3 linked regions of the Homo sapiens genome follow. The protein of the gene in region 2 purifies or fractionates together with the protein of the main gene of each other region. This does not show direct contact. Each region holds a gene or a part of one and is shown on either strand. Other genes may lie near its edges.

Region 1 (3,628 bases), on a different chromosome or scaffold from region 2:
TGGAAGAGGATGAGTCATCCCTGCAAAGGCTCACCTGCCCCTACTGGAGAGAGATTTCCACTCATCCTAAAGAAGGAGCTGCCTCCAGTTTCAAAGGTTTTGAGGCGAGAAAGCTTGAGTTGCACCGATGACACAAGAAAGAATCAGCCTGTCGTTGTCTAAGGCACCAAAGGGAAGCAGTGTGCCAGGACACTGGTGACCTGAGCGGTAGATTTTCTGAGATGGTTTTACACCCTAAAACGCGGATGTAAAATCAGACGAGCTATGTGGACAGAGCAGGTTGTGTTGCTTGTATACCTGGGAAAGTGGCAGATGCTCTGAGGCACTTGCTCCTTGACCTTGGGGTTCTGTGGGTGGGCAGATGCTTCCTGAGGATGGCACACAGGTTGGGCACACTGTCAGTGTCACCGAGAAGCCACCACATCCCTGCTCATGCTGCATGCACCCATATGGGGAGAAGAGGGGCAAAGCAGATGCTTAGCTGGAGGGTAGGAGTGATTCTGTGGGGTGAGCTGGGAACTAGCCCCTCCCCCATTCCCCAGGAACTAAGAATCCTCCTCAAGGAGGTGGCCTTGGGTATTTGAGAGCTGCAGCAGCCCTCCTCTCTTCCTGGTTTACCCCACTCACCAGGGACCTCTTTGAGTGGGAGGAGAGCCTGACCCCATTCTAAGCCTCTAAGCACCAGGCATCAGAGCACGTTCACCACAAGGGTTGGGCAAGGGAGAAGAGGTCATTGACGCAAAGAGCCAGCTCAAGCCAGTCAGGCCCAGACCCAGCTGGGGCAATGCCCTGAACTCAAGGTCCCAGGGAAAGAAAGACATGGTTCGCACTTCAGAGAGTGTCCAAAGTACATGGTGGTGGAGACTTGTACGGGCGTGAGATGGAGATGGGAGTAGGCGTCATTCATCAGGAAAGGCTTCCTAGAAGTGCATTCTAGAGACATCGGGGACCAAGTGGAAGAGTGAGCTAGCACCATTACACTCATTAGAAGCCCATGCTCTTGCTATTGAACTTGACTTTTAGAGGGCATTACTTACCAGTCAGACACCCCAGGGTCAAGAGAGGGAAAATCACTTTTGTTGTGGGAGCAGTGCTCTTACAGACAGAGCACACCTGCCCCCAGTACTCCTTGGTTATCTGGCACACTGCGAGCTGTGATTTCAGGTGTGTGACAACTATGGACTTTTCCCCTCTCTCACCACCTCCGCCCCAAATACTGTCACCTTCTGCCAGATTAGCAGTGCAGGCAGGTGTGATGTTACCCTCATTCTCACCAGAGCCAAGCAGACCCCAACTACAGATAGGTCTTAGGAGATGCCTTCAGGAACTGCCTGGAAGGGCCTGCAGGCCACAAGTGAGTGACAGTCACACCTGCCTTTACCAGAGTTCATGCTGGACATGGGGACTGGCTTTGGGAACTGCAGGGCATTCTGGCCTCTCCCTCCATGTGTCTGTGTGTCCACTGCCACCTCCATGGCAGAGAGGCCTCTACCTTCATACAGAGAAGAGTGTATGAGAGGGAGGCAGGCAGGTGCAGGGTGTGGCGGGAGGAGATGGTTAGTCTGATGACCCATGGGGAGAGCAGCATCATGCTGACAGGTTCTCTCCCAGAAGACGGGCAAGAAGGCCCTGGTGCAAGCCCCCCGGGGCTGCTTCTCATAGCAGGAGGCCTCCCCGGTGCTCCATAAAGTTCTGTCTGTCACCACCCCAAATTTTCCACCCAGAAGCAGCTGACTGACCCACACCTGACCTTTGGTGAGAAATACCTGCTCACAGGGCCAGATCCAAATGAACTCTATCCTATCAAACCTTGGAAGAATGATCAAAGTGGGCTGGGTGGAAGGGAGGCAGACAAGACCTGGTGGTTGGCCACCTAGGGTCCTGACTATGAGTGTGCCTGGCTGCAGCCCCCTTCCTTGGGAGCACCAGTCCTGAGTGACTGAGCCCATGAGATTGCCTCCAGCCTCTTCCTGATAAGGACAGTCTTGCCAGAGGAGCGGTTGCTGGAGAAAGGTGGAGGAAGAGCTGTGTGCACTCTACAGGGAGCTTGGAGGAAGCCAGAGGTTCAATGGGCCACATGGCAGAGTCCCAGGATGTTGCTCATAGGCGGATGGCCCTTCTGGAGTCAGGGCTAGGCCTGGAGTATAGGGGAGGCCTCTCAGAGGACCCTGAGGCAGGTGGCAAACGAGGCGGTAGTGTGGCCTTTGATGTCTGCCCTTCTTCCTTGTAAGCTGAGCTGTGTCTCTGGAGAGGAGGAGTCGGCTCCTCTGAACGCAGTCAGGCACGTGTCACTATCATCACACCACCACAGGGCAGTGGAACTGTACGGGGCCTATGGGAGGTAAGAGGCCAACCCTCTCTTTTGACAGAAGAGGACACTGAGGCTCAGAGAGAGCAAGTGACTTGCCCAGGTGCCAGAACCAGGACAAATATCAACACCGCTAGGCCCCCAGGGCAAGCTGTGTCTGCCACAGCTTGAGACCCCTAATGTCCATGATGGAAGGGTGCAGAGAGTTGGGCAGCACTCTCTGCTGTGGGCTATGGGTGGTGACCTGGCGCTGGACAGGGGAGGTGGCACGAGGTGGGGATCCCTGCCTCATTCCAAAGCTGCCCCTTGGCTATTCCCTCTACTCCCAGCTCAGATATTCCAGCCCTGCTCCCCCAGGCAATGGCCGGGGAGCCTAAGTGGGTGTGGCAGATGGGGAGGAGCTACCTTGGCTGGGTGAGATCACTGCCCAACTCTCTTCCCCACAGACAGGGTTTCCGATGGGGGAGTCTGACCATCGCTTTAGAGAAAAGGAGTGCATATCCCTCTTAGGAGGCTCTCACTGGATCCCACTCACCTTCATCCCCCAAGGCCATCACTTAACAAGAGTGTGGGCCAGGCCACGGAGCCATGGCTTGCTCTTCGTGGAGCTCCCAGTATAGCTGAGGGAATGGGACGCAGGGCAGAATGAGACTTGGGCTACCAAGAGCAGGACAGTATGTGTTTAGAGGCAGGAGAGATTGCCTTGTGCAGAACTGATCAGAAAGGGCTTCCTGGAGTGGGTGAGGTCTTGAGCTTGGCTTCAAAAGATGAGCAAGATTAGAAGGTAGTGGCCAAGGAGGGAAGGCAGGTTTGGCATGGAGGGAGATGTGAGTAAAGTGGTGAGCCTGTCACCATTGGCCATATTTCAAGGACAGCAGGACAGTGAACAGACCAGCTTGTGCAGAGTTGATGCTATCCCTTAGGGTGTCCCTGCTGGCCAGTGAAAGGGAGATGAGGGGGGTGGCCCCACTAGGAGCCCCAAATCCAGTTCTGTTTTCTGTGATGCAAAGCCACTTTGCCACTAATAACCCTAATGACACTCTGTCCTCCTGCGGAGCCTGTCATTTGTGGGTCTCCAAGCACTCCGAAAACATTAATTAATCCTCACTGGGCCTTTGAGGTTGATCGCCGCTCCCCCTTCACCAGCCAGAGCATGTTAGAGGTGAAAGAATGGGAGGAAGTTTGGTCACTGGTAGGGGCTGGGCTGAGATTTGAATCCAGAGTCCTGTCCTGAATCAATCTCTAATCAGCTGTTGCTGCTGGACTGGGAATGTCGGAATCCTGCCTGTCTCCCCTGAGTGGGAATCTTATCCTTGTGGA
Region 2 (3,628 bases):
TTCGTTATTGGACTATCATTTCTGAAAATGAATGACCCCTGATCTTATGATAGTCGCTAAAGAAAATATTGAAATATTAAATCACAGGACATAATACTTAAGGTAGTTCCACATTCATTATTTATTCATTAAGAATTTATGAGTGGGAAGAGGGAGGGTATTAAAAAACCACCTATTGGGTACCACACTTATCACCTGGATGATGAAATAACATGTACACTAAAGCCCTATGACAGGCATTTTACCTATATAACAAACCTGCACGTGTATCCCTGAAACTAAAATAAAAGTTAAAAAAAAAAGAATTTATAATATTGGCTCCACTAGTGTGGCAGTTTTCCTGCAATGCAGAGATCCAGAATATATATGGATGTTTTTGATAAATATTTGAGCTTTGCTTGGACATTTACATACTCTAATTCTAGAATTTCACCTGTTAGGTCTTTTCTGTGATCTCTGTTATCAGTCTCTCTTTTTTTTTGCAACAAATAGTACCTACATTGGGGTGCATGTTGTTGTGGCTTGGTTTTCAGCTTTATTCTTAGATCTTCTTTTGGGAGAAGGGTTCCTTGTATGCCCATAGGAAAGTTCAAGTACTCAAGACTGGGGCGGGCAAAGCTGTCCTGGGAGCAGAATGGATCTGTGGGAAGGAAGGAGGGAAAACGCTGCTTCTTTCATGGGCTGTTTTTGACTCTATTGACATAGAGTTTCATTGAAAATGCCATTGCTAGGAGCACTCTCCTGTTTCAAAGGAGAATGTTACTGTATTATCAGAGGCTGGGAGTTATTGTTCTCAGAGCAGATGCTTCCTGTAATGTGAGGACTTGAGGATCAAGACACTTCTCCCTGCTTGTCTTCACATCCTTTGCTTTATCTGGCTTCTCCAGTTGTAACAATATGTAGATAAACCAGGACTTCTAAATCAGGGGTCTGGATCTTCAAGTATCTGGATGTGGATTCATGTTTTGTTTTTTCTCCATCACATAAACACCAAACACCAACAAATAAATACCTTTTATTTTTAAGGGACAGAGTCTCACTCTGTTGCCCAGGCCAGAGTGCAGTGGTGAAATCATAGCTCACTGCAACTTGGAATTCTTGGGCTCAAGTGATCCTGCTGTCTCAGCCTCCTGAATCAGCTGGGACTACAGGCAAGTGCCAGCATGCTAGGTTTAAAATTTTTTTTTTTTTTGTAGAGATGGGGTCTTGCTATGTTGCCCAGACTGGTCTTGAACTCCTGGGCTCAAGCGATCTTCCTGCCTCAGCCTCCCGAAGTGCTGGGATTATGGGTATGAGCCTGATTGTTTCATTTTCCTATGAGCCACCCCCAGCCCCCCAACAGAAGGTTGGTTTTAATAAAGATTTATCTTCTAGTAAAGTTGGGTAAGGCAGTAGACTGTGTCTTAGTAGCTTATTTCCAGCAGTTTTGGATTTCTTAGAAATCCTCAGGATAGGGAGGTGTTTTACCCAAACCACAATAGATTTCTGGCTCAATTTGTGTTGGAAATAGTAATAACTAAATTGTTCAAATGGAGAATGTATTTAATAAAGGTGAAAAAGTATGGCATTTCTTCAGGGAAGAGTTCATTTGTTTGTTTGACAGATATGGGGGAGATTTTATTTACATTTCCACTTTTATGGCCAGGAGTGTAGGTTATATTACTGTTATTCATTTAAAAATACATTAATTCTACATTTATTGGGGATTGATTGTAGTTTTTTTTTTTTTTTTTTTTTTTTTTTTTGAGACACAGTCTCACTCTGTCACCCAGGCTGGAGTGCAGTGGTGCGATCTCGGCTCACTGCAACCTCTGCCTCCCTGGTTCAAGCGATTCTCCTGCCTCAGCCTTCCGAGTAACTGGGACTACAGGCATGTGCCACCATGCCTGGCTAATTTTTTGTATTTTTAGTAGAGACGAGGTTTCACTGTGTTAGCCAGGTTGGTCTTGAACTCCTGACCTCGTGACCTGCCTGCCTCGGCCTCCCAAAGTGCTAGGATTATAGGCGTGAGCCACCGTGCCCAGCGATTATGGGCTTTTTTTTTTTTTTTGGTGAATAATAGACCTTTAGAAAAAGTATTTCTGCTACACTTTGCAGAGTTCTGGGAAGGTGTATCAATGCCTTTCTAGTAGTGAGATTCAAAAGATTGCTTGTCACTGTTACCACTGTCACTGCCTCTACCACTATCAGCATCATTGCCATCAGCTCCATAGTGATTAGAACTATGTTCCTAATCTTATCTTCCTTTGCATAAAGAGTTAGTTAAATAAACATAACTGGCAAAACGTAGTAAAAGTTCAGCAGGTAATAATTACCAGAGGAAAGAAGATGGCACAGCTATTGGCATTTAAAATCAAGTCAGATTACTGTTTTGGGTGGAGAGTGAGTCTGTCCCTTTGTCTCTTCCCATATTTTTTTTCTCTTTCCTTACTGTGAAAGGAGTTCCTTGCCAAATCAAGAAAAAAGAAATTAAGAACATTTTGAGAACTGTCCTCTCATCTGTTAAGGCATATAAAATAATTTAATTTTCGTGATGTCCTTGAAACCATAATTTCTGTTTTATTTTCCCTTCTCTTGCTACAATTTGACATTTTCATTTGTAAACTTTCAGTAGTTTTCCTGAACAAGAGTCACTTCAAGTAATAAAGAATATAACCTTTCTCCCTCATTAATGAATTCATCATCATTAGTTTCATGTAAACCTGATTTAAGAAAAAATGCTAGAGGCTGAGTGCAGTGGCTCACAACCGTAATCCCAGAGCTTGGGAGGCTGAGGTGGGAGGATTGCTTGAGCCCAGGAGTTTGAGACCAGCCTGGACAACACAGTGAAATTCTATCTCAAAAACAAAAACAAAAGAACCCTTAAAACCAAAAACTCCCAAAAACCTAAACTGAAAATGCCTACTGAAATTTTGGGAACTCTGCATGGGCGTCTCCAGGTGAGTGCCTGCTGGTTTGGGGGCACCATTTTTTAAATGCTGCCAATCCTACTTCCATCTTCCCATTGAGTTACTGGGGTGGAATGTGCTCTATAAATGTGTCTGTAACTCGCTTTTTCTTTTTGCCCTAAAATCCTGGAGAGTTAATGGAGTGTTAACCTTTTTTTAAAGATTTTTTAAAAAATCTATTTTTTCCTTTGTTGTCTTTCTCACATTGACTATGATATATTTTATTTTCCATCTTGGCTCAGTAAGGGTGGGAAATTTTTAAAAATTGAGATATTAGCTGAAAAACTTAAAAAATCATCCAATTTGGTTTGGATGGTTTTCTGGTGGAAACAAAGCTCCTGAACATGCATTTCATGCCTCGTAGATAAAAATCAGTCCCATGGTCTTTATGAAAGTAGATTAATTAGTGTAGTGTGTGGGCAGATCTCCCAGAGCAGGTTTTCACAGGCAGCTTTGCCAACATAACTCAGTCTGAACCTGCAGTTATGTTAGAATTATTTTTAAAGGGTGTAGGCTTTTCATTCACACATCGTCTTTGTTCTTGTGTGTGATGTATATTAACAGGTAGGTGGTACCTGAGAATAAAGGACCACAGCATAATCACGATGTGCCTGGGCTCTGGAGCCTGGCTACCTGGGCACAGGTGCTGGCCATTCCACTTAGTGGTTGTGTGGCTGTGG
Region 3 (3,628 bases), on a different chromosome or scaffold from region 2:
GAGGGAGAAGAGGTGACCAGAGAGGTAGTGGATGTGGGGGAAGGGGAGACCAAGGAGGCTTCCAGGCCATTGTAATACTGGCTTTCCCCTCAAGTGAGATAGGAAGTCACTGGAAGACTTCTGAGATAGGTGACAGGTAATTACTAACTATAAAAGCTGGAAGGACCATCTTAAGTTGTTTTTTTTTTTTTTTTTTTTTTTTTGAGACGACGTCTCACTCTGTCACCCAGGCTGGAGTGCAATGGCACGATCTCGGCTCACTGCAACCTCCGCCCCCTGGAATCAAGCAATTCTCCTGTCTCAGCCTCCCAAGTAGCTGGGATTACAGGTGCATACCACATCACGCCTGGCTAATTTTCTTGTATTTTCAGTAGAGATGGGGCTTTGCCACGTTGGCCAGGCTGGTCTTGAACTGCAGACCTCCAGTGATCCGCCTGCCTCGGCCTCCCAGTGCTGGGATCACAGGCGTGAGCCGCCGCGCCTGGTCCATCTTTCTAGATACATGTAGATATGTTTATTTTTATATGAAACTATGGGAAGGGATTCTATAATTTCCCAGATTCTATTATGCTCATAACTGTTTCAAAGGTTTAACAGCTGCAATTTAAACATTTCAAATGACAATACAAATTCCTCTCTCAAACAGAAATGGAAATGTCCCTTTAAAAGACTGATAATGGTGAAAAACTTCTTCTTACCATTCTACAGGTAAAAAGTATAGTCTAGCCAGCCAATGACACTGAAGATTTGGGGAAGCAATGTTTTTGATCCCTGGCCCCAGCCCACTCTTCCATCCAGCTAATCCTTTAGGGCTCTACTGTACCTTCCCTAGAGCTCCGGGCCTTCAGTGATGCCTTCTCTCTGATCTCTTCAAAGATAGAAATTTCTGTCATGCTCATACGCTGGCTTCCCATGAAGGTTCATATGAATTACCATCTGCTCTAACAAACTACTGTTAAATTGTATTTTACATAAAAGTTAAATCTAATTTTATTTCTTCTGAGGAAGCTGAACTAACTTTTGACCAGAAAGGGGAGAGAGTGAGTGGCTGTATCACTCATGATATAATTAAGGGTGAGGGGTAAAAGAGTAAAAACAATCAGACCTCTTCCAGAAGGATTTAGAACCAGTAATGAAGGGACAGCAGAATAAAAGAGTTGCTGACTTACACTGGGTACCACCGTGGGATGCTCTCGTGCCTCTGCGTCTGGTACATCAAATGCCCGGAGCACTTCAGGGCTCTTGTTGCCAGTCTGAAATCTCAAGTCAACATCTCTCTCTCTCAAAATCTCTCTTCTACCCTCATACGTTTTGGCATAAGGGCCTTGCTCAGTGGGGCCCATTTGGCCCCTATAATGGAAATCGGCATCACCTGCTCCACCATCAGGTCTATAATCAATTTCCTCCTGCCGTCTTCTATCCCGTGGCCGAAGTGCCTGGGGAGGTTCGCTCTCAGGACCGCCTATATGTCTCAGCACATGAACTGATTTTCCAGCACCATAGCAGAAACTCTGTAAGGAAAAGAAATACATTTTCCTGAGGACTCAATGGCTAACTTACAAAAGTTATGAGGCATTTTATTCAGAGTGCTAACAAAGTTATGTAATTTAACTTACTTGTGGCATTTATAGACATAAACATGTTAATTTGACTTTTTTTCATTAGAGACCTCTTTAGATTAATACAAGGCCAGAGTGGCCAATAAAACTTAATAAATCTTTCAGTAGACATTTTAATCAGCTAGACACATTTCGATTGAACTATAACAATGGCAGGCTGAAGCCTAGATATTTAAATTAGAAGGTTCTAGTCTGATAATTATTCATGTTTCTAGATTCATGCCCATCATATAAGGTAAATGCTGAAAATATTTAAAGTTGTATATCATTATGTAAACAATCTTCTGTACATTTTCTTTTTACAAATATAAACTAGGCTTAAGTTACAGCTAAAATTCAACAGGTTTTGATTCACATTCCATGGGAAAAAGTAGGCAGCAGTTCCTTACAGTGTGGCCCAGGGACCCCCGGGGGATACCTGAGACTTTCAGGAGATCTATGAGATCAAAACTTTTCATAATACAAAGACATTATTATTTGTCTTTTTCACTGTCCCCTCCTGAATATACAACGGAGCATTCCAGATGCTAGAGTGACAGCCTCACTCAGACTCAGGGGATGCATGCTTGCGTGTACAGTACTCGTATGTTTTAAATTTGTTTTAACTCCTAATATGTAAGTATCAATAAATATAATCACCTTAAGTAAGAGCTGTTTGTGGGCTTCAATTTTTAAGACTGCAAAGAGGTCCTGAGAACAGAAACTTTGAAAATTTCTGTACTAGTTTTTCAAACACTACTATTTGAAGACAAAAGCAGCAAAAGTCAAAGAGCATAACTTTCCTGAGGGAGCACATGAAACAAAAACAGATGGTGAAGACTCTGCTGATAATTTCAGTTTCAGAGACTAAACTATGACTATAGAACTAATGTCACCTAACAAAAAAATACCCGTCAACCACATAATCCTGTAATCACAAGCCAAAAAACAAAACCAAAAAAGAAACGATTTCAAAGTGAACAGAGATAGTGAATCTTGTATCCTTAGGGAAGAGAATTTCCCTTGGCACATCTGAGTTCTTTTTGTTTTATGCGACAACTGCTTTACTTGGGTAATAGCTAAAAAATCGATAACAAAAAACACTGAATAGACCATGGAGGGATGACGAGTAATATTTCTTCTTAATGTCTGCTCCTGGATCCCCAAACTCTTTCTCAGCATACCCATGTTCTTCCACATCCCTTTCTGGTTCTGTGTCAAACTCAATGCTCTACCCTTCTCACTGCTGCAAAAACTGACTAGAAATAAGAAGTCCCCCTTTCTGGGAGACAGAAATCAACTTCCTATTTCCTGTGTATTAATTTACCAAGGTTAACACATTTAAAAAGAGGTTATTATTCTAAATCACTGCTATGACATATGCAATCAAACTAGAGAACTACTTTCTTGATTATAAAAATATACAAGTAAGTATAATATGTCTGTATCATTTAGAGGGGCAGAGGGGAGGAAAAAAATCTGTATCACTTAAAAATCGCCTTCTCATTAAGCGTGACTTAGCCTGATTTACAACATCAAAGAAGCCCAATAATTTTAGCATTGCCTTTTTTTCTGTAAATCTTGCTAAATATTGACAGTGCTAATATTTAATACTAACCAGTATTACTAATATTAATACTAAGATTTAATATAAATCTTGCTAAATACTGACAGTGCATATATATATATAAATATAAATATATAATATATAAATATATATTATATATAATAAATATATAAATATAGACAGATATATAAATATAAATATATATAGATAGATATATAAATATACATATATGTATAATTTTTTTTTTTTTTTGAGACGGAATCTTGCTCTGTCGCCCAGGCTGGAGTACAGTGGTGCGATCTCGGCTCACTGCAAGCTCCGCCTCCCAGGTTCACCCCGTTCTCCTGCCTCAGCCTCCCGAGTAGCTGGGACTACAGGCGCCCGCCACCACGCCCGGCTAATTTTTTGTATTTTTTTTAGTAGAGACAGGGTTTCACTGTGTTAGCCAGGATGGTCTCGATCT

Evidence for each region.
Region 1: the proteins of CD109 (region 2) and PKP1 purify together in Homo sapiens (affinity purification with mass spectrometry; one large-scale study listed by BioGRID and IntAct). This does not show direct contact.
Region 3: the proteins of CD109 (region 2) and CLCC1 fractionate together in Homo sapiens (co-fractionation; one large-scale study listed by BioGRID). This does not show direct contact.

Annotation. Positions count from the first base shown.
Region 1 is NC_000001.11:201,289,955-201,293,582, forward strand, and holds part of PKP1 (plakophilin-1), read left to right. Parts: intron 1-3,628. UniProt on the Homo sapiens protein: A component of desmosome cell-cell junctions which are required for positive regulation of cellular adhesion.
Region 2 is NC_000006.12:73,699,075-73,702,702, forward strand, and holds part of CD109 (CD109 antigen isoform 1 preproprotein), read left to right. Parts: intron 1-3,628. UniProt on the Homo sapiens protein: Modulates negatively TGFB1 signaling in keratinocytes.
Region 3 is NC_000001.11:108,935,908-108,939,535, forward strand, and holds part of CLCC1 (chloride channel CLIC-like protein 1 isoform 1 precursor), read right to left. Parts: intron 2,402-3,628; exon of another isoform or gene 2,259-2,401; intron 1,512-2,258; coding exon 1,170-1,511; intron 1-1,169. UniProt on the Homo sapiens protein: Anion-selective channel with Ca(2+)-dependent and voltage-independent gating. Permeable to small monovalent anions with selectivity for bromide > chloride > nitrate > fluoride.